Linked DNA regions of Homo sapiens: region 2 is linked to region 1. A link means that fine-mapping ties the variant in region 1 to the expression of a gene that starts in the linked region. Tissue or cell type: whole blood. Region 1 holds a variant in brackets; the other region holds the start of a gene. All regions are shown on one strand. Distances are between the middles of the regions.

What was found.
Region 2: it holds the start of PIK3R6, and the variant in region 1 is fine-mapped to the expression of PIK3R6 in whole blood (TOPMed, PIP 0.97).

The regions. Positions count from the first base shown.
Region 1 is chr17:8,779,651-8,789,818 of GRCh38, forward strand. No RefSeq gene overlaps it. Among named protein-coding and RNA genes, the nearest start is that of MFSD6L, 15 kb to the right of the region's middle. The variant T/C (reference allele first, on the strand shown) is at 6,211.
Region 2 is chr17:8,862,921-8,873,088 of GRCh38, forward strand. PIK3R6 (phosphoinositide-3-kinase regulatory subunit 6) reads right to left here and starts at 4,754. Exons shown (of 20, transcript NM_001010855.4): 1 at 4,609-4,754. It overlaps LOC107985071 (a long non-coding RNA gene), which reads left to right and starts at 4,854. Exons shown (of 2, transcript XR_001752787.2): 1 at 4,854-5,085; 2 at 5,612-6,113. RefSeq lists enhancers at 1,980-2,049, 2,100-2,239, 2,350-2,699, 4,523-4,702, 4,733-4,882.

The DNA of each region.
Region 1 (10,168 bases):
CAGTGAGCCGAGATCGTGCCATTGTACTCCAGCCTGGGCAACAAGAGCAAAACTCTGTCTCAAAAAAAAAAAAAAAATCAGAAAGTATATTAATATACAATCACCACAGGAATAAACTAGAGAAGGAAGAAAACCACATGATCTTAATAGATCCAGTAAATGCTTAATAAAGTTTATGATGAGTGTTATGAAAAACCAGGAATAAAAAGGAACTTCTTTAATTTAATAAAGCCTTCAGCAAACATCATACTGAAGCTTTAGATGTAGCCTGGCATGGTGCTTTTAATCCGAGCACTTTGGGAGGCTGAGGCAGGAGGATTGCTTGATGCCAGGAATTTCTACAAAAATTAAACAATAAAAACATTAGCTGGTCATGGTGGCACCTATAGTTCCAGCTACTTGGAAGACTCGGGTGGGAGGATCACTTGAGCTTGGGAGTTCAAGACGCCATGAGCTATGATCATGTCATTGCACTCCTGCCTAGGCAACAGAGTGAGACCCTGTCTCTAAAAATCAAATACACAAACAAACAGACAAAGACTTTAGACAGATTCTTTTTAAGGTTGAGAACACAAAAATGGTTACTCTACCACTACTATTCAACATGGCATTGGAATTCCTTGCTAACACACCAAGACCATGAAAACCACCACCACTGCCACCACCAATAACAACAAGAGGGTCAAGTGCTAGCAGGGTAAAGGCAAAATTGATTATTTGCAGATGAAATGTTTATTTACATAGTAAGCACAACAGAATTAAGAGATAGAGAGTCAGAACTAAAAACAGAGTTCAGCAAGATGGCTGGAGATGATGCCCAGCATACAGAAACTGATAGGGTTTGTTTGCACTGTCAATGACCAATTAGAAAATATAAAAATATACAAAATGATCTTTTACAATAGCATAAAAAACTGTCAAGTACTTACGACCTTATATAATGAAACTACATAAGATCTTTGTGGAGCAAAATTTAAAACTATTAAAGGACATAAAGAAGTTTTGAGGCCGGGCGCAGTGGCTCACGCCTGTAATCCCAGCACTTTGGGAGGCCAAGGCGGGTGGATCACAAGGTCAGGAGATTGAGACCATCCTGACTAACATGGTGAAACCCCATCTCTACTACAAATACAAAAAATTAGCCGGGCGTGGTGGCAGGTGCCTGTAGTCCCAGCTACTCTAGAGGCTGAGGCAGGAGAATGGCTTGAACCCGGGAGGTGGAGCTTGCAGTGAGCCAAGATGGCGCCACTGCACTCCAGCCTGGGTGACAGAGCGAGACTCCGTCTCAAAAAAGAAAATAATAATAATAATAATAATAATAAATAGAAATACATACTATATTCATAGATAAATGGCTTAACAATGTAAGGATGCCAAATCCCTCCAAATTAATGTACGAATTCAATGCAGTTCCAATAAAATTTCCAGAATTTTTTTGGGGGAAAGTGAAACACTTACTGTAAAATTTATAAGGGAGAATAAAGCCTAAAAAAGAAGAGTAAAGAGGAAAGACTCACCTTACCAAATATTGAGACATTACAAAGCCAAGTGCTAACTGTGATATTAGTGTGATATTAGTGCAGGGACAAATAGATTAATAAAACTAGAGAACTCAAAAGCAGACTTAAGTATAAAGATGTAGTGCCAGAAATCATAGAGGAAGAGTGGATTATTTAGTCTATAGCATTTTGAAAACTGGCTAAGTGGAGAAATATAAAGGTGGGTCCCTATCTTAAGTCTATTCAAAAGAAATTCCAAATGAATTAAAGACCTAAAATGAGAGTTTAAAATTAAAAGCTAATATGGAAAATGTAGTATCTTTTTAACTTGGAAGTGGGGGGGGTAGCAAGAGAGATTCTTATTTTATTTTATTTTTCTCCCTAGAATCCTTGTAGCAAGAGAGATTCTTAAGATCCTCAAGATAAATTGTAATGGGAAAATAAAAAACTTTGATTACATCAAAATAAGATTTTCTGTTCAAAAAAATATACCAAAGTTAACAAATGAGTGACAGACTGGGCAAAGATATTTCCGAAATGAAAATCAGCAAAGGATTAATATCTAGATTATACAACACACTTCTGCAAAACCACATGAAAAAAGACAAGAAACAGAACAAAAACTGGGCAAAGGATATTGTGGAAATATGAGTTTTAAGCTTCAAACACTTTGATTTGACTTTGGTTAAAATTGAGTTGGAACCAAAGGTCACGATCACAACTAGAAAACCCTCAGAGGTTAACACTTTTGAAAATGCAGAACTTTTAGTTTGTGGTCTGGCATGTTAAGAAACTTGGAAGTAACCACTCTGTCCTAACAAGTAAAAAGCTGAAAAAACTGGAAAATCAACAACTCTTCTTAGATCTGTGAGACAAGTGATGTCACAGGATAAACCAGTGCTCCCAAGATTGGAGAGACAGAGAGGTGAATACAGAGAATCAAAACATACGGAAGCAGAAACTCACAAGTAGAAACCGGCATTGTACTTGATGAGTTGCTGGAGGCTCGGCATGGACAAGTCTGAGAGATAAATATTCCAGGGGTACCCAGGCATAAGGGGGTCCCTACACTCTGGTGAATTTTACCTCCTGGAGCTCTACCAGGTTCTCACAGTGAATAATTTGAGAAAATTTCCCTCATGCTTCCATCCTGGGGATGGGAAAAGAAGCTATTTGGAAATACCAATGCATTCCATTCTTTTCAACAAAGCCTTCCTCTAGGAGAAACTATTTAACCAGTCTAACCTGCTGGGTTTTTATCAGAGCGTAATTAACTTAGGGGAAGGAAAATATCCAATTCCAACCAGCTGTAGCTTCCACATGGAGGAAGGGAAATACTCAACTCTAATTTCCTCCAACCTTCCATGTGGGAGAAGGAAAACCCTAATTCCAGTTCACTCTAACCATCCTAGTTTACCTAAGGGGAGAGGGGAGCAACTGAGAAGCACGTCTGAAGTTCACAGTCTAGGGGCATAGGCTTACTAAAAGACTGAGGCCTACTCATAGGACTATAGAATGCTCTTCTTCCCCCACACCTTACCACCACATTACTAAAGGCTTATGAACAGAAGTTTCTTTTACCCAGTACATTATGTCTGGGGAAAACAAATTACAGGGCATACTAAAAGGCAAAAACAAAATATAGAGACAGAGAAAGCATCAGAATCTGACTCATGTGACAGGGATGTTGGAATTATCAGATCAGGAATTTAACCCAAATATAATTAATATGCTAAGCGTTCTAATGGATAAAGCAGATAACATGCAAGAACAGATGGGCAATTTAAACAAAGAGATAGAAATTCTAAGACAGAACCAAAAACATACACTAGGGATCAAAAACACTGTAATAGAAATAAAGACCACCCAGATAGGCTCATTAGTATACTGGACACAGCTGAGGAAAGAAACGCTGAGCTTGAGGATATCTCAAAAGAAACTTCCAAAACTGAAAAGCAAAGTGCAAGGCCGGGTGCGGTGGCTCACGCCTGTAGTCCCAGCACTTTGGGAGGCTGAGGTGGGTGGATCACGAGGTCAGGAGTTCCAGACCAGCCTGGCCAAGATGGTGAAACCCTGTCTCTACTAAAAATACAAAAATTAGCTGGGCGTGCTGGCAGGTGCCTGTAATCACAGCTACTTGGGAGGCTTGAGGCAGGAGAATCATTTGAACCCGGGCAGCAGAGGTTGCAGTGAGCCAAGATTGCACCACTGCACTCCAGCCTGGGTGAAAGAGCGAGACCGCATCTCAAAAAAAAAAAAAAAAAAAAAAAGCAAAGTGCAAAGAGACTAAAAAAGAAAAACCAAACAGAGCATCCTAGGACTGTGGGATAGCTACAAAAGCTATTCATATAAATACATGTAATGAGAATACAGGAGAAGAAAAAAAGAAAAGAACAGAGGAAACATTTGAAACCTTTTAAAGGCTGAATGATATTCCTTTGTATGTATATACCACACTTTTTATCCATTCATCTGTTGATAGGCACTTGGGTTACTTCCACATTTTGGCTACTGTGAATAATCCTGCTATGAACATGCATGTACAAATATCTCTTCAAGACCTTGCCTTCCATTCTTTTGGGTATATATTCAGGAATGGGAATGCTAGATCATATGGTAATTCTATTTTTAATTTTTTTTAGCAAGAACCCTACAGTTTTCTATAGTGGTTGCACTATTTTACTTTCCCATCAACAGTTCATAGTGTTCTAATTTCTCCATCCTTGTCAACACTTATTATTATTATTATTATTTTTTGAGACACAGTTTCATTCCGTCACCCAGGCTGGAGTGCAGTGGTCCAATCTCTGCTCACTGCAAACTCTGCCTCCTAGGTTCAAGTGATTCTGCTGCCTCAGCCTCCTGAGTAGCTGGGATTACAGGTGTGTGCCACCAGGCCCAGCTAATTTTTGTATTATTAGTAAAGACTGGGTTTCACCATGTTGGCCAGGTGAACTCCTGACCTCAAGGGATCAGCCCAACTTGGCCTCCCAAAGTGCTGGGATTACAAGCCAGCCACAGTGCCTGGCCTGTTTTTTTTTTGTTGTTGTTGTTCGTTTTTTGTTTGTTTTTCATAGCAGCCATCCTAATGAGTGTGAGAGATGGTATCTCATTGTGGTTTTGGTTTGCATGTCCCTAATGATTAGTGATGTTGGGCATCTTTTCATGAGCTTGCTGGTCTTTTGTATATTTTCTTTAGAGAAATGTCTATTTAAGTACTTTGCCCATTTAAAAATCAGGTTGTTTGTTTTTTTGTTGTTGAGTTTTAAGAGTTCTTCATATATTCTGCATATTAACACCTTATCAGATGTATGATTTGCTAATATTTTCTCCCATTCCATAGGTTGCCTCTTCACTTCTGTTGATTTTGTCCTTTGATGCTAGACCTTTGTCATCCACATCTTTGTCATCCACATCTGAACCCCATCTCTCGTTTCCATTGGTGGTAGTCGTGGTGGTGGTGGGCCTCAGTATGACTGCAGTAATGGTACCTGGTGCGTCTTCTTTCCAAGACTGCCCTTACTTAGTTTCTTTTGTTTGCAATGAGACAAAGATTTCTGAGCACCAAATGACAAAGAAGAGTTAAGTTTTTAAAAGCAATTGTTTTCTTCTTGAAATGTTTCTTTAGTTCCTGTTCAAGACAATGCTAAGCAAAATTCAGATATCACCACACAACCTCTGGTCTTCTGTGGAAGGCAAGACTTCTTCAAATATCCAAACACCTTGAGCCCCTGAGTTGGTCTGACTCGCTAGTCCCAGGGACAGACACAGTGAGGTTTATTTGCTGCTGACAGCCAAGCTCCAAGGCAAGATGGGACAGCTATTGTCATGGGGGGAGACATTCAGATCCCTCTTATGACTTGCCATAAAAATGATGGGCCTCTGGTGGGATCCATTCCCAACTCTCTTACCTCATTTCAGGTAGGTTCAGTGGTGACATCCAATCATAGCTCTCTTACCTAACTCACCTCTCCAAGGGCAAGCTTCTCACTATTCTCTAATCAAAATTTAGAAAACCTGCCAGTACAACCTTGGAGAAGAGGGGCTTTAGCCAAAAGCAGGTGCTATATTCTCTCCTTCCTGGAAGTGTCATCTCTTTTCTGGGCTAAGAGCACACAGATTTTGATGTAATTTGCCAAGAACAATAGGAAGAAGCACTGTTTCTGGATGCCACATGCTTCCTGAAAGAGGAAAATTGTAACATGTTGATATGATAGTGGAGGGTCTTGGAATTTTCTTGGAATCTTCTCATCTCTTCCATGGTGACAGAGATCCAGTGAGTGCCTGGTGAGATAGGACTTATTTGTAAATCCTTGTGAGCCTCTCTCTGCAGGCACTGGAATATACACTGATGAGATTTGGGCAGCCAGGCTTGGAAGGGGATGGGGCTGAGGAGCAGGAGGTGAGGGTCTGTGAAATTGGTTTTATTATTGTGACTCTGACCTCAGGTGGTCCCTCGGCAGCCCTAGGAAACTCAAAAAGTACATGCAGCTATTTATCCTGTTTCTTCACATTTACACTGATCAAGACAAAAGTAGCATCAGGGTCGTCCATATCCTCAGGAAAGGCTGCCAGAGGCTGTCTGGGCTGGCCAGGCTGATCTGCCAATTCCACTGGAAGCCTTTGCAGCTGCTCCCTTTTCCCAGACCCTGGCCTCGCCTCCTGTCTCTCACAAAGCCAGCTCAGCAGCAGCACCTGATCCTCGGGGTTT[T/C]CTGTAATTCCAAGCTCCAAGAACTAAAGGGCCTTCAGGTTGCCGGCCTCATCCTGAGCTGCAGCTTTGGGAAGGGAATAGGGACCAGGTTTGCCCAATGAAGAGGGACGCTAGTTTTCCCTTGTGTTTGGCGCTCCCTGGTGGAGAGCTTCGGAACCCCTGGTCGAATCCTCTCCCTTCCTGTCCCGGTTTGCTTTCAGAAGTCCTCTTCAGTCCCCGCTTACAGCCATTCCACCCCCGTGTGGAGGCAGAAAATAGCTTTCCAGTCCCAAGAGCGTGGCCTGCCCCTTGCAAAGGGCAGAGGGGATGCAAGTGTCCAAAACTGCAGCCTATGGGGGTCGACATGAACAAAGCTAAAGGGAACGTTGAGTGCCAATAGGAAGGTGCCCCGCCCTGAAGGTGCCTACCCAGACCTCTGCCTTCCGCAGTAGCCCCCCATGCTGCAGGCCTCGACCAGACACCAAGTTCCAGTCACCACAGATTGCCCCCTCTGGCTCATCCCACCACTCCCTAGACCCTGGCTTTGAGGGCAGATCGATTGGCCTATAGGGCTGGTGTCTTGGCTCAATGTGGTCCTTCTGCACACAGACCAGGAACTTTCTGCCAGGTTCTGGGGAAGGAGATGAACCTTCATTCCAGGCCCCAGCATCTCTCGGGTTCCAGAATGCTATGCTATTCTGCAGGGTGAGAAGGGCTGGTGTGCCCTTGGCCCAAAGGAGGGAATCACGTCAAGGCCGAGAGGCACAAACTTAGAAGGTCACAGAGACCAAGGCCCTCATTTTTCAGACATGGGAGCTGAGACCCAGTGGGGTAAGTGACTTGCCCAGGGGTCATATTTTAAGTTTTACTTCTGTAGCAGATGACAACTGTCTTAGTCCGTTTTCTGTTGCTTATAATGGAATACCTGAAACTGGGTAATTTAGAAAGAAAAGGAATTTAGTTCTTAAAGTTACGGAGGCTGAGAAGTCCAAGGTGAAGGGGCCACATCTGGTGAGGGCCTTCAGGCTGAGGACTCTCTGCAGAGTCCCGAAGTGTTGCAGGGCCTCACGTGGCGAGGGGGCTAGGCATGCTAGCTCAGGTCTCTCTCTTTATAAAGCCACCTGCCCCACTCCTATAATAACCCATTAATTCATTAACCCATTCACTTATCCATGATGGCAGCATCCTCATGAACCATTCACCTCTTAAAGGTCCCACCTCTCAATACTGTCACATAGAGGATTAAATTTCAACATGAGTTTTGGAGGGGACAAATATTCAAACCACAGCAACACCTCACCAGTCACGTTTCTGTCGTGCACCGCAGGCTCCCAGGATTGGAAAGAACTTCAGTCCAGTGGAGCCTCATGTCTCCAAGCCATTTCACAGCCAGGCTAGCAAAAAGATAAAGGTTTCATGAACATGGCTGTGGAAAGCCAGTGGATGCTGAGCATGCCTTCTGCTTTGCTCCACATCACAAACATCACCAAGTGGCAGGGCTTCTGGTCTCAGTGACAGTCAGCAATTGTAGAAGGAAGCTAGCAGATGAGGAGTTTTTGCTGTATTGTCTATAATTCTTTTTTTTTTTCTTTGAGAAGGAGTCTCGCTCTGTCGCCCAGGCTGCCAGGCTGGAGTGCAGTGGCGCGATCTCAGCTCACTGCAAGCTCCGCCTCCCGGGTTCACGCCATTCTCCTGCCTCAGCCTCCTGAGTAGCTGGGACTACAGGCACCCGCCACCACGCCTGGTTAATTGTGTGTGTGTGTGTGTGTGTGTGTATTTTTAGTAGAGACAGGGTTTCACTGTGTTAGCCAGGATGCTCTCCATCTCCTGACCTCATGATCCGCCGGCCTTGGCCTCCCAAAGTGCTGGGATTGCAGGCGTGAGCCACCGCACCCGGCCTGTATTGTCTATAATTCTTATGATCTGAGCTTTGGTTTCAGGTTTTGGATGGATGGCTTCATGGGCTCCCGGGCTCTGCCATTTCTGCAGAATTTCCTCCTCATCACATGGGTTCAAAATTACAAAATCATCCACGATCCTTGATACTCCTTCTTCGTTGATCCCCGCGGCCCCATTATCCAATAAACAACCAAGGGCTGTCTTGTTGATTCCACTTTTGAAATTCCAATACACATACTATGTTGTCATTTGATTCTCATACCTTTTGGGATGCAGCCTCTTCTTGCCTGGAATGTTGTGGTGGTCTGTCCAAAACAAATGTCTCAGCACCCATAATCTCCACCAACTCAGACTCATTGTTCACTTCGCAACAGGCAAGAGTTAAAAGCTTTCAGTCCTCTCCATTGGCTAGTCAAATCTTCTCTTCTAGAGGCCCCATAGTCTTCAGAGGAACAACCGTGGATTTCTAGCAGCCAGATATGGGTTCAAACCATGGCTCTACCATCTAATAGTCGCAACCATGGGCAACTAAGTCAGTTGACCTTTCTGAGCCTTGGTTTCCCCTACTGTAAATTGAGATTAGTATGAGGATTATGAGTATTGCTGTGTGCAGGTGTGAGGCATAAAGAGCAGAAGCAAATTTCAACCAGTGTGAGTTCTGTTTCCCTTAGATTGAGGCTTAGGAAGTTCACAATCTGTTCCAACACTTCTTTCCAACTTTATTTTCCATGAATCTCCTGTGAAATCTACACGCGTATCTGGTGTGTTATCTCTATTGTGCCCCTATCCCTGATCATTGCTCCCCTGCTAGGAAGAGCCTCTTCACTTGCCTGAGTTGGTTGAATGTAGCAGTTGGGAGGACGGACTCTGTGGTCAGATAGATCTAGTTTCGAATTTTAACCTTTCTGAACCTTAGTCAAGTCACCTGTACAATGAGGCCATACTAATATCTTATTTCATAAATTTGATGGTCTGACTTAATGAGATAAGCTTTGTCCACCTCTTATTAGCCCGACGCACAAGATTCCTGCTAGTCTGGGTGTGGGAGCCCAGATTTGTCCCTGGCATCAACTCTATTGGGTTGAAAAGATCATCCAGAAAACTACAAATGGCATTTTTCAAAGGGTCTTCTAGGGAACACTAGTTCTGAAAGATCGTGATTAGTGTTACATGCGAAGAAGGCTGTGACACCACATAAGGGGAATTATAGGTCAAAGAGAGAGAAACAAGTTTGTTGACTGCAGGCTTTTGAGAGTCTTTAATTGCTAACAGGTATTGCAAGTTTCTAAAAGGTGACAATAATTAACATCATTTTCCAAAGTTGTTTGACCACAGACAGAATCCTTATGTAATGCTCTCCCCAACCCTCCACACCACTAGGATTGCATGTTCTGCAAAACTCAGTTGGGAAATAGTGGTCTAAGTAAACCTGAGCATGATGGTTAATGGCTCATTCAATATTTACATTCCTCTTAGCTGGAACCAAGACATGTCAGAGGGTCAAACTCAATATCTTTAACAGCTACAAGATCAGGAGCTGAGAATTGTATTTACTTTTGATTCTGTAAAGCTTAACTGACCTACTGGTAAAGTAGGTAATAGAGTGAAAGTCACAGCTTGAAGTCTAAGACTTTACGACCCAGTCCTTCCTCCATACGCCGGCTTATTTCATAAACTCCATGAGGGTCTTTTCAGAAGGTCCCTGCGCTCAGCTGTCCTGTCTGCCCAGAGAGAAATGCTCACTATTTAAACTTCTCACTTGACATTTACGTTGTCCTGTCCCATTCTGTTTGTGGACATGGTTTTGTGGTTCGGCCTTTCCTTCTAAATTGTCAGTATTGTTCCCAGGCAGGCTTTGTCATAGAAACAAAGTGCAGTTCAAGGTTTCACATCTGCACAAATAGGCAGGGTGGGTAGCATCGGCCTCATATCCAAGGGAGAGAGTCCGTTGAGTGTTACTCCGATCGGACGGGGGGGGTAGTTCACATGTGCATCCCCAAACAATGATTGCGGCCCTGTGAACAAAATGTGCAGAATGGCATAAAGCCATTGGGAGGTGACATTAATTACCCCGGGAAGA
Region 2 (10,168 bases), 83 kb after region 1:
CTCATGGTTTCACTTATTCCATAGTTCCTGAGCACCTTCTATGTGTCAGACATTGTTCCAGGTCCCAGGGATGTGGCAATAAGTTAAAATACACAAAATGCCTGCTCTCAGAAAGTTTGCACTCTAGTGGGTGTGTAGGGGACAGAAAATCAACCAAATAATTAAATCGTATATGATAAGTGCTATAAGAATAAAGTTGGGAAGGGGAAGGAGGGGTTCTAGAGTTGGGGAGGGGTGTGCAGTGTCTAGATATAGATACATGGATATGTAGATATTTAAATATAGATTTAAATTTAAACTTTTAAATTTTATTGTCAATTGATATATTATAATTGCATATATTTATGGGGTACAAAGTGATATTATGATAGACGTATATAATGTGGAGTGATGAAATAAGGCTAATTAACATATCCATCTAATACCTATCCTTTTCCTGGTGAAAACATTTGAAATATTTACTCTCTTAGTAATTGTGAAATATACAATACACCATTATTAACTATAGTCACCCTAATGTGCAATGAATCTCAGAAACCGTATTCCTCCCATCTAATGAAAACTTCATACCCTTTGACCAGCATCTCCCTATTTCCCCCAACCCCCAAGTGTGTGTGTGTGTGTTTTTTTTTGAGACAGAGTTTCGCTCTGTCACCTAGGCTGGAGTGCAGTGGTGCGATCTCGGCTCACTGTAACCTCCACCTCCCAGGTTCAAGCGACTCTCCTGCCTCAGCCTCCCGAGTAGCTGGGACTACAGGTGCACACCACCACGCCCAGCTAATTTTGTGTATTTTAGTAGAGATGGGGTTTCACCATGTTGGCCAGAATAGCCTCGATCTCCTGACCTCGTGATCCACCCGCCTCGGCCTCCCAAAGTGCTGGGGATTACAGGCGTGAGCCACCGCGCCCGGCCAGTTTCCAAAAGGATGATGAGAGAGATCTCCTGAGGAGGTGCCATTTGAGTGGGAACCTAAAAAAGGCCCGACAGCAAGCCATGCGGTATCTGCAGGAAGAACGCTCTAAGCAAAGAGAATAGCCAAGTCCTGAGTTGCAAGGGTGCCCAGTGTTTTTAAGGGACAGCGTTTGGGGTGCAATGAGTGGGGGACACTAGGAAGATGTTGGGAGACAATTCTCCATAGGTTTCTGTTTGTGCATGCCTGGTGAGCATTCTTCTGCACCATCTTTTCAAATACGTTTGTATAGCAAACAGCCTTGGAAGATACTGTCCATTCTAGGACAGAAGACTAATTTGCTGTCAATATAATAGAGATAATGTCTCCTTTCAGGGTAAAAGTTGGGCAGGTTTGTTTGCAGCTCGTCATGAAAATTTGGGGTTTCCTAGGCTCAGGGTTCCTGGGCTATGATGCAACAGAGTCCATTTGGATTGGGCTCCTTGCGGCGCCCCTAGGACTTAGGGGAAAGGGGGACCTATAATCACAATGTTCATGCTCCTAGTTGTGCTGTGAGTAATAGAGTTCTTTGTCTCTGACTCTGGAGTCTCATGTCTTCTGCTGGTGACCATGAAGCTGTGGTGGGCTAACTTGTTAGTTCTAAGTTAACTTATAACTAACAGATCCTTCTAACTTATAACCCAGGTCCTTCACAGCTCTTTTTTTTTTTTTTTTTTTTTTTTTTTTAGACAGAGTCTCACTCTGTCGCCAGACTGGAGTGCAGTGGCGCAATCTCGTCTCACTGCAACCTCTGCCTACTGGGTTCAGGTGATTCTCCAGCCTCAGCCTCCCGAGTACCTGGGACCACAGGCGCCCGCCACCACGCCCAGCTAATTTGTTGTATTTTTAGTAGAGACGGGGTTTCACCGTGTTGGCCAGGATGGTCTCGATCTCTTGACCTCGTGATCCACCCACCTCGGCCTCCCAAAGTGCTGGGATTACAGGCGTGAGCCACCGCACCCAGCCCCTTCACAGTTCCTGGCAGAGGGATGAGATCAGAGACAAAGAATGAAGGGATGAATGAATTGGGATTCAGAGAGCATTCTTCCTTAAACACAGAACATCAGCACTGAACAAGTCGCAGGCCAGGTGCACACACACAGCTCATCACTCCCTTGGGGTACAACAAGCCCAAGGACTGACCACAGAACCATAGAAGCCTTCTATGGACACGGCAAAAAGAAGCAAATGGGGACCACCTGTTCACAGCTGCTGCTCCCTGTTGTTGGTGTGAGATAAAGTGGGGGTGACCTCCTGGATAGAGGAGAAGACTGAAGTAAGAGGGCTTGGAGGAAGATCTGAGGAAGCCTGGCTCAGGTTCAGAGTTTCTGAACCTGAAGATTCTGAACATGAAGATTCCAGATCTGACTGTCCCTTGTGCCCCCATCCCCCCAGCTCACCATTGCTGGCTTCTCGGACAAGCTGTTCAGACAGAAGAACCCACCACCTAGGCCTCCCTATACCTGCAGGAATAAAGCCTGGGCAGAAAAGATGTGGAGCTTCCAGGCCTCCCTATACCACAGCTGCAGGAATAAAGCCCTGGCAGAAAAGACGGGGAGCTTCCCAGGGCCACACTCTGTCTGCCTCCTGTCCTCCAGCCACTCCTGTGGCACAGAGAGAGGGGACCTGCAGAGCCTGGGTCACCTGCCTCTGTTGCCTCCCCTCTTCTCCCACCAGAGCTGCCTCGTGCCCTCAGGGTTTCAGGGGCAGCTCAGGCTTGCCAGACGTCATAGCTGTGTTTTTTTTTTTTTTGGATCGGAGCGTGTGGTGAGTGAGCTGGCAGTGAGGGACTAAGGGAGTGAGAGGACAGAGCTCTGGGTCCTGAGGGGGCCCCCTCAACCTTTAGCCCTTGCCCCCATGAGGTCTACTTCTCAGATTCCCAAGGAGCCGGGAGGTGAGGGTCCTGCTGCCCTGGCTGGCCCCCGTGGACAAGGACAGGCCTGTTTCCTCAGCTGTGTCTGCTTCTGGCTGGAAGGAAACACCTGGATATGAAAGAGCCAGTGGGGTGGGGGTGGGGGAGCATTGTTCCCAGGGGCAGGGAAGCTTGGTGGGATCTGAATTCAGGTGGGGCCTGAATGCAGCAGGGACCAGATGGCGATGACTGCAGCTTGGCATCTGCAGCCACCGTGTCAGCCGAGGCGCTTTCGTGGAGACAGTGTAGGGCCTGCAGCAGGTTCTAGTGTGAGGCAGCGGGGCATGGTGGCCAGGCAGGTGGCATTCCAATCCTGTTAATAGGGCAACTTGGGCTGCTTGCTTAAAACCTCCGTGCCTCAGTTTCCCTATCTTAAAGGGGACCTGACAACAACACCTACCTCATAGGCTTGTCATGAGACTAAATGAGATGATATTTGAAAACCACATAGAGCTAAATAAATAAATGGACCGGGCCAGGCGCTGTGGCTCATGCCTGTAATCCCAGCACTATGGGAGGCCGAGGTGGGTGGATCACGAGGTCAGGAGATCAAGACCATCCTGGCTAACACGGTGAAAACACAAAAAATTACTACTAAAAATACAAAAAATTAGCCAGGCGTGGTGGTGTGTGCCTGTAGTCCCAGCTACTTGGGAGGCTGAGGCAGGAGAATCGCTTGAACCCAGGAGACGGAGGTTGCAGTGAGCCGAGATCGCACCACTACACTCCAGCCTGCGCAAAAGCGTGAGACTGTCTCAACAACAACAAAAAAGGACCGGCCTGCGAGTGCTCCACACACCCCCTCTAGCTGTGCTCCCCCCAACACCTGACTTTCCCACTTGCTTTCCTGCCTCTGGGGGTTTGCACACTTTGCTCCCCATTGCTGAGGTGCCTCTTGCCTCCTCTTTGCACACCAGGTCCTCCCTTGAGCCTCAGCCAGGCACCACCTTCCACGGGACCCTCCCTGAGCCCGCACCCTGCAGTCTCTTTCATCCTGCACACACCACACACCTCCTGGCTCGCTGAGGACCCTGAAGGTTCTGAGTTGGTCACTCGCAGCTGTGTTCAGACCCTCTTTGCAAGCAGTCAGCCCTTCAAGGACAGAGACCAGGCCTCGGTCAGACTCTGGCACACATAGAAGATACTGGATTTGTGTATAGGAAGAGAATCAGCCAGACCAGCATGACTTTCACCAAATTCCCCAGGAAAGTGATGGGCAGATGATGTCCCAGAAAGGGCACAGACTGGGACCCAGATGTTTCACACTGAGTCCTGCTCCTTGCTAACCCACTCTGCAATCTTTGGCAAGTTGCTTCATCTCCCTAAGCCTCAGTCTTCTGTTCTATAAAATGGCACTAAAACACTTATCCAGTCAACCTCTAAATGCTGGTGAGAATCAAATGGGAAAATGGGTGTACTCTGCAGCACCGGGCATCAATCATTAGTCCTATTATTAACAGCATGTACAGGATTCCAGAAGAAAGGAGAGTCCTTCTCACAGGGTCCCGTGTCTTTTCATCTTGTGAAAATGGGCTGAAACAATCTTAACTTGGCAGAATTACCCTGCAGTGTCTGAGGTCACCCTTCTCAGAAAGACGGCCCTGGCAGCCCTGAGCCTGGATAAATAAGAGCCAGGGGTGTTTCAGCCCCCCCAGGGGCTCCCCTTCCAGGTCCCTCCGTTCCACCCCTCTATCTGTTCTGCTCAGATCTGCCTGCCTGGCGATCTCCATCCAAGCCAGCACTTACCTTGGTTCGGTGGCAGCTTCTGGGCTCCCCAAGTCCTTCAGCCAACTCCCCACGGTCCTGAGCGAGGTCCCCAGTCCCAGAGAAGCAGATGTCTTGGGGGAGCCTCCACGGGTGTCTGTGGTCTTGACTGTGCTCTTCAGATCTGCAAAGAAAAGCTCGATGTCTCACAGCTCTGTCCCCTCCTCTTCCTTCCCCTTCCTTGTGGCCCTCGAAGCTCCTCCCAGAATGCATTTTGCTGTGAGGATCCTTTCTAAAGAAGCATGACCCACGGTCACTGGAGGTCCTTTATTCTGATCGAATGTGACCAATTTTATGGGGCAGGAGGGGGACACCTCCCAAGAGACTCCCTCTGGTGTTGACGGGGGAGGGACTGATGCAGGGAGCCCTGACCTCTCTCTCAAGCTCCAGACTCACCAACCATCCCCCACCCCTGGACATGGCCAGCCAGATGTCCCTCAAGCACCTCCATCTCAACAGGTACAAACCGAGCTCATCATTTCTCCCTCTAAGCCCACTTCTCTGTTTCCTGCCTCAGAATCAGCAACCTCGGTATCATCCTAACGCCTCCCTCTTCCTCGCCTGTTACATCTAAACTGCACCAAGCCCTGTCAATAGGTCATGGATCCTCCACTTTCTTCCATCCCTATGGCTGTCACTGTTTCACCTGACTACCATGGTCTTTCTCCTGAAACACTACAATAGCCTGAGGTCCTTCACCCCACAGCCAAAGGTCTCTTTCTAAGAGTGAAACACAAATCTATTCATGTTACACTCCTGCTACAACCTTCAATGGCTCCTTATTACTTTAAAGAGAATGGCCAAACTCCTCAGTGTGACTTGCCAGACCCTTCTTGATCTGGTCCCTCCCTAAACTCCAACCTCATGCTTTATCCCCTCACTCCAGCCCCTCCCAGAAGTACTGCAGTCTCTTAACTATCCAGGCTGTGGGAATCACTTCCCAACCCTTCTCCTGGCTCATCCCTTGTCATTCATTATTTATCAGAGAAGAACAAAAAAACAAGCCTAAGAGGCAGGAGGAAAGTGGAGTGCCAGGGATGCTGGCAGAAGACAGAATGCCAAGGAGGAGACAATGGTCAACGACGCCAATGATTGTGGAGAGGACACAGGTGAAGAGAATGAAGAAGCATCTGCTGTCCTTGGCAATTAGGAGAGAGCAGTGCTGGGCAGGAACAGTAGACCTGCTGGGGGAAGTTGATCAACCGCATGGTGACACATTTGCTACTTTGTCATTTTCTTTTTTTCACATTTTGAAGTCAAACACTATTTGGGAGAGTCTCTGACACATTTCTAGAGCTTTGAAAAACTCACAGATTCTATGCTGTCATCCCGTTGGGCCTAATGGGTAAATGGCTCTAGAGAGTGACAGATTGCTGACAGCAGGGTTTGAGTGCTGGATCCAGCTATGCCTGAAATTCTGGGGCTGAATCTACTCTTGGACTGTTCATTGTACATGATCCAATAAATTCCATTCTTTTTTGGATTAAGCCTGTTGGAGTTTGTCACTTGGCTCAACTCAGAGAGCTTTGGGGCTGTGAAGTCACTGATCCTTTCCCGTAGGGGCTTGACTAGGTTCTATGCTGACCTTTCATTTTGCAGAGGAAGCTATTTGGAAAAAAAGTCCAGAAATGTAAATCATTTACTCTATTGCTGTGCCTTCCTCCCATAACTGCTTCTTTTCTGTCCCCTTCATGTGACTGAAGTCACATTCTATCTTGCATCTTTGTATTAGCGTTCTCAGCTCACATGTCTGCCTTGTTCCTCCCTCAATGAGTCCTGAAAGAGCAGGGGCTAGAGTGTTGTTCATTATTCCGTCCATCACAGGGTGAAAGAGTGTTAAGAGAATGCTTGGCTTATTTATGAAGCAAATGGGTGACTGAACGAAGGAAACGAATACGCCCAGGACAGAATAAAGGACCAAGAACTCAGCCCCTGCAGGTTCCAGACTCAGCAGCAGCTGGGCAGTGTGGCCACCCTGGGCAGCGCCTCTCCTTATCAGCCTTGGCTTAACTGAATCGGAAATCACAAGCCGAGGTCACTTCTTGTGGGTGCACTGCTCTCTTTATCATCAGCTGCCATTTCTGCAACTGCATTTGCTGTGGTACCCATAGAGGGGGCAGCTTGGTGACCATAGAGAGCCCCAGAGCTGTCCCTTGCAAAGAGGAGCTAGGGTGCTTTCATTTTTGAGTGCACACGGCTGACCGCCAGCCAGGAACAAAGGACAGTGGGAGGAGGAGGTGACAATAGGAAGGACCAAGTTCCCCCACGGACCCCAGTGCACCGTCCCTACCATCACCAAGGCAAGGCAGCACTACCCCTTTTGCCAATCCCAGCCATGTCTTTCCTCTCCAGACCATGTTCTTAGGATTTGTTTAATCTGGGTTTTCCAGGCTGTGCTCTTACCAGGTTTCTCATCTGCACCAGTCTCCAAAGAGCAGCCCCCTCTTTCCCTGCCAAAAGGCAAATGATCCGTCAGCATCAGAACTGTAAAAATTAAGGTTCCCTGCTTTCACTGTACTAGTTCCCAGATGACCTGGTCAGCTAATGGAGGCAAAGACCCCCCAGAATGATCAATGCCCAAGATACAGAAGCAGAAGGCCCACCATCTATTGTCACTCCCCTTCCTCCTCCTCCTTCTGCCACCCTCCTCTGCCAAGTGAGGGTCCCCACTCCTGGTGACCCTTCTGGGCATAGCTGCAATGGCCTCTCTTCAGGTTCTCCTATCTCAGCCAGGGTGTTTGGAAGTCTGTTTACATAACTCGCCTTGGGGTTACAAAGTTACTTACCTTCTCTACAGATGAACCACTGTTTCCAATCCATCCTCATCCATTTTCTAATCCATTACAAAGCCACTGAGAGCTTTAAACAAAAATTAAATCTTCTTGCAACTGTGGACAGAGCCACGGGTGAGGAGGGCCAGGTACCAGCATTGCGGAGGTCTGCAGGACCACAGTATTGGAGTCAGGCAAGAATTACATGCTTAGGAAAAGAGGTCCCCAGGGTCGCTTGTGTCCTCACCTGCAGTGCCACCCACCGTGGGAGCTGCTCTGGGATTATTCAGCATCGAAGGCGGCAGAATTTGTCATTTCAGTTTTCTAAGGAATCCACTTACATAAAATACTAATAAGCAAAGTCAATTTTACTAAAGATTATGTAGGAGGATGAAGGGAGTGTACATCACACGTCTCTTGGCAAACTATTCAAAAATCCTCTGTGGATAGTTCTGAGGATCCCGACGTCCCTCCTCCATGCCATGCCATTGGAGCGGGCAGCCTGGAATGGGGTGGGCTTTTGTGCTTTTTCCTGTCTCTCTTCTCCCCATGTGACCCTGACTCATTAGCGTCGGTTCCTCCCTCCTAGATTTTTTTCACAGACATATCCAAATTGTCTTCGAAGCCCATTCAGAGCACTGTAATTCCATTCTAATTCTCAACTCCCCACTTTTCTACCCCAAATTCATGACTGCCACCCACACAGATAGCTCTCTGGTTGGCAGGACCCATTTTTAGAAAACCGTGAGAGGTAATAAACCAGAAAAGAGCTGTTAGGAAAACACATTTTGATTCGTTTAAACAATCACCTCGTGAGTCAGCTACAGTTACACAGATAGGTTAAGTTTAAACGCTCTCATCCCTGGTGGAGGTGAGACTCGACACACTGCCTCGGCACAGGCAGTACCCAACTGCGGGGCACCTTTGCCTCTGGTGCAGTCCCTCCAGCTCTTGCCCACGGCCCAGAGGCAGGCAGGACAGCGTCATGCTCTAAGCCACTGGTTCGCTAAGGGTAGTCCCTGGACTGGCAGCATCAGCATTGCCCTGGAAATCCGTTATCAACTAGTACTGTCTGCTGTGGCTGTGGAAAGGGAGGAACAGTGCACACCTCGGGAATTTTCCATCCTTTACTTCCAGCAGCGTTATTTGGCAGAGTGCATGCAGAATCAGGACTAATTGGGGTGATAGAAGAAGCGGATTTATGCTTCATATCCAACCAGTCACCTTCTCAGCTATTTTTCTTATTTTTGGTGGTGGTGGGGAAGTTTTTATTTTAAATGCCATCAATGTTCTTTTTTTGTTAAGCTGTAATGTTTAAAAAACTAGTCAAGTAGGCCAGGCACGATGGCTCATGCCTGTAATCCCAGCACTCTGGGAGGCCGAGGCAGGTGGATCACCTGAGGTCAGGAGTTCGAGACCAGCCTGGCCAATGTGGTGAAACCTCGTCTCTACTAAAAATACAAAAATTAGCCTGGCATGGTGGCCGGTGCCTGTAATCCCACCTACTTGGGAGGCTGAGGCAGGAGAATCACTCAAACCTGGGAGGCAGAGGTTGCAGTGAGCCAAGATTGTGCCATTGCACTCCAGCCTGGGTGACACAGCAAGACTTCGTCACAAACAAACAACAACAAGAAGAACAAAAACTACTTAGGTAATCCATAAATATATTTCCATTATAAAAACACTCAAGCATTGTAGGACCCTAAGAGGAAAAAAGGAGGGTCTCTCTCCTCCCCCTCCTCAATTTCTTTACCCTCCCACCCAGTGATAACCATGGTAAATAGCTTAGGGTAGTTTATACATGTGAGCACCATACAAATCGCTCTTTAACTTGCTTTGTTTACTTGAAGATCACGATATATTGGTACATAAGGATCAACCACATTCTTTTCTTACATTTAAATGTACATGTTTGTTTGGACTAGTTACACATTTACAGGGTTCGAAATGGGAAGGACACAGAGAAGATCAGTCACTCCCTCTTCCGAAAGCTGCCCTTCAGGTGAAGAAAACCTTGTGACCTCCTCCTTCTCTTTTGCGGGTGCAACTGTCCCCTCTCCCAAACTCCTTGGTACTGGCAGCTCTGTGATGAGGTGAGAGGGCAGACACTTTGGGGTTGCTGTGGAGGGCGGGGCCTGGTCTCTTCTCATTTCCCCTGTTCTCATGGCTGCCTTGAGAGGGAGACCAAGTGGACCCCTGCTTCCTCTCCCTCTGCCCCTAATACCGCAGGTTCCTCCTTGGACAGGCTTTTGCTGGTGGAGCTGAGCTGGGGAGGTGTTAGGAGTCTCTTCATCTGCATGATATGCATATCACCCTCTCCATTTTCTTTTTCCAAATGAACTCACACCAGGAAGTGGAACAAATCAAGATGGCTGGGGTCAACCAGGAAATCAGTGAGAAAACGCAAAGACCCCAACTTGCATTATTTATGCAAATTGCCTGCCCTCCAAACATGTGCAGGACCACACACCCACTCATGTGCACACGCACACACACACACACACACACACACGCACGCATGCACACACTGAGCTACACCCCCAAAAGTAAGCCAGGCTACCTGGCTGGGCCCTCATCCTGGCACGTGCCTCTCACTCTGTGTGACCCTGTGCAGGCCTCTCCCAGTCTCTGGGCCTCAGTTTCCTCCTCTGTAACCTGAGGGGCTGCAGATTGGGTTTGCAAAGCCCTCCTCAGCTTTCTCAGCCCCAAAACGATTCTGTTCTGGCCTCAGAGACTTTCGGCTACAGTTTTGCTCAGAGAAGGCCTCTGGT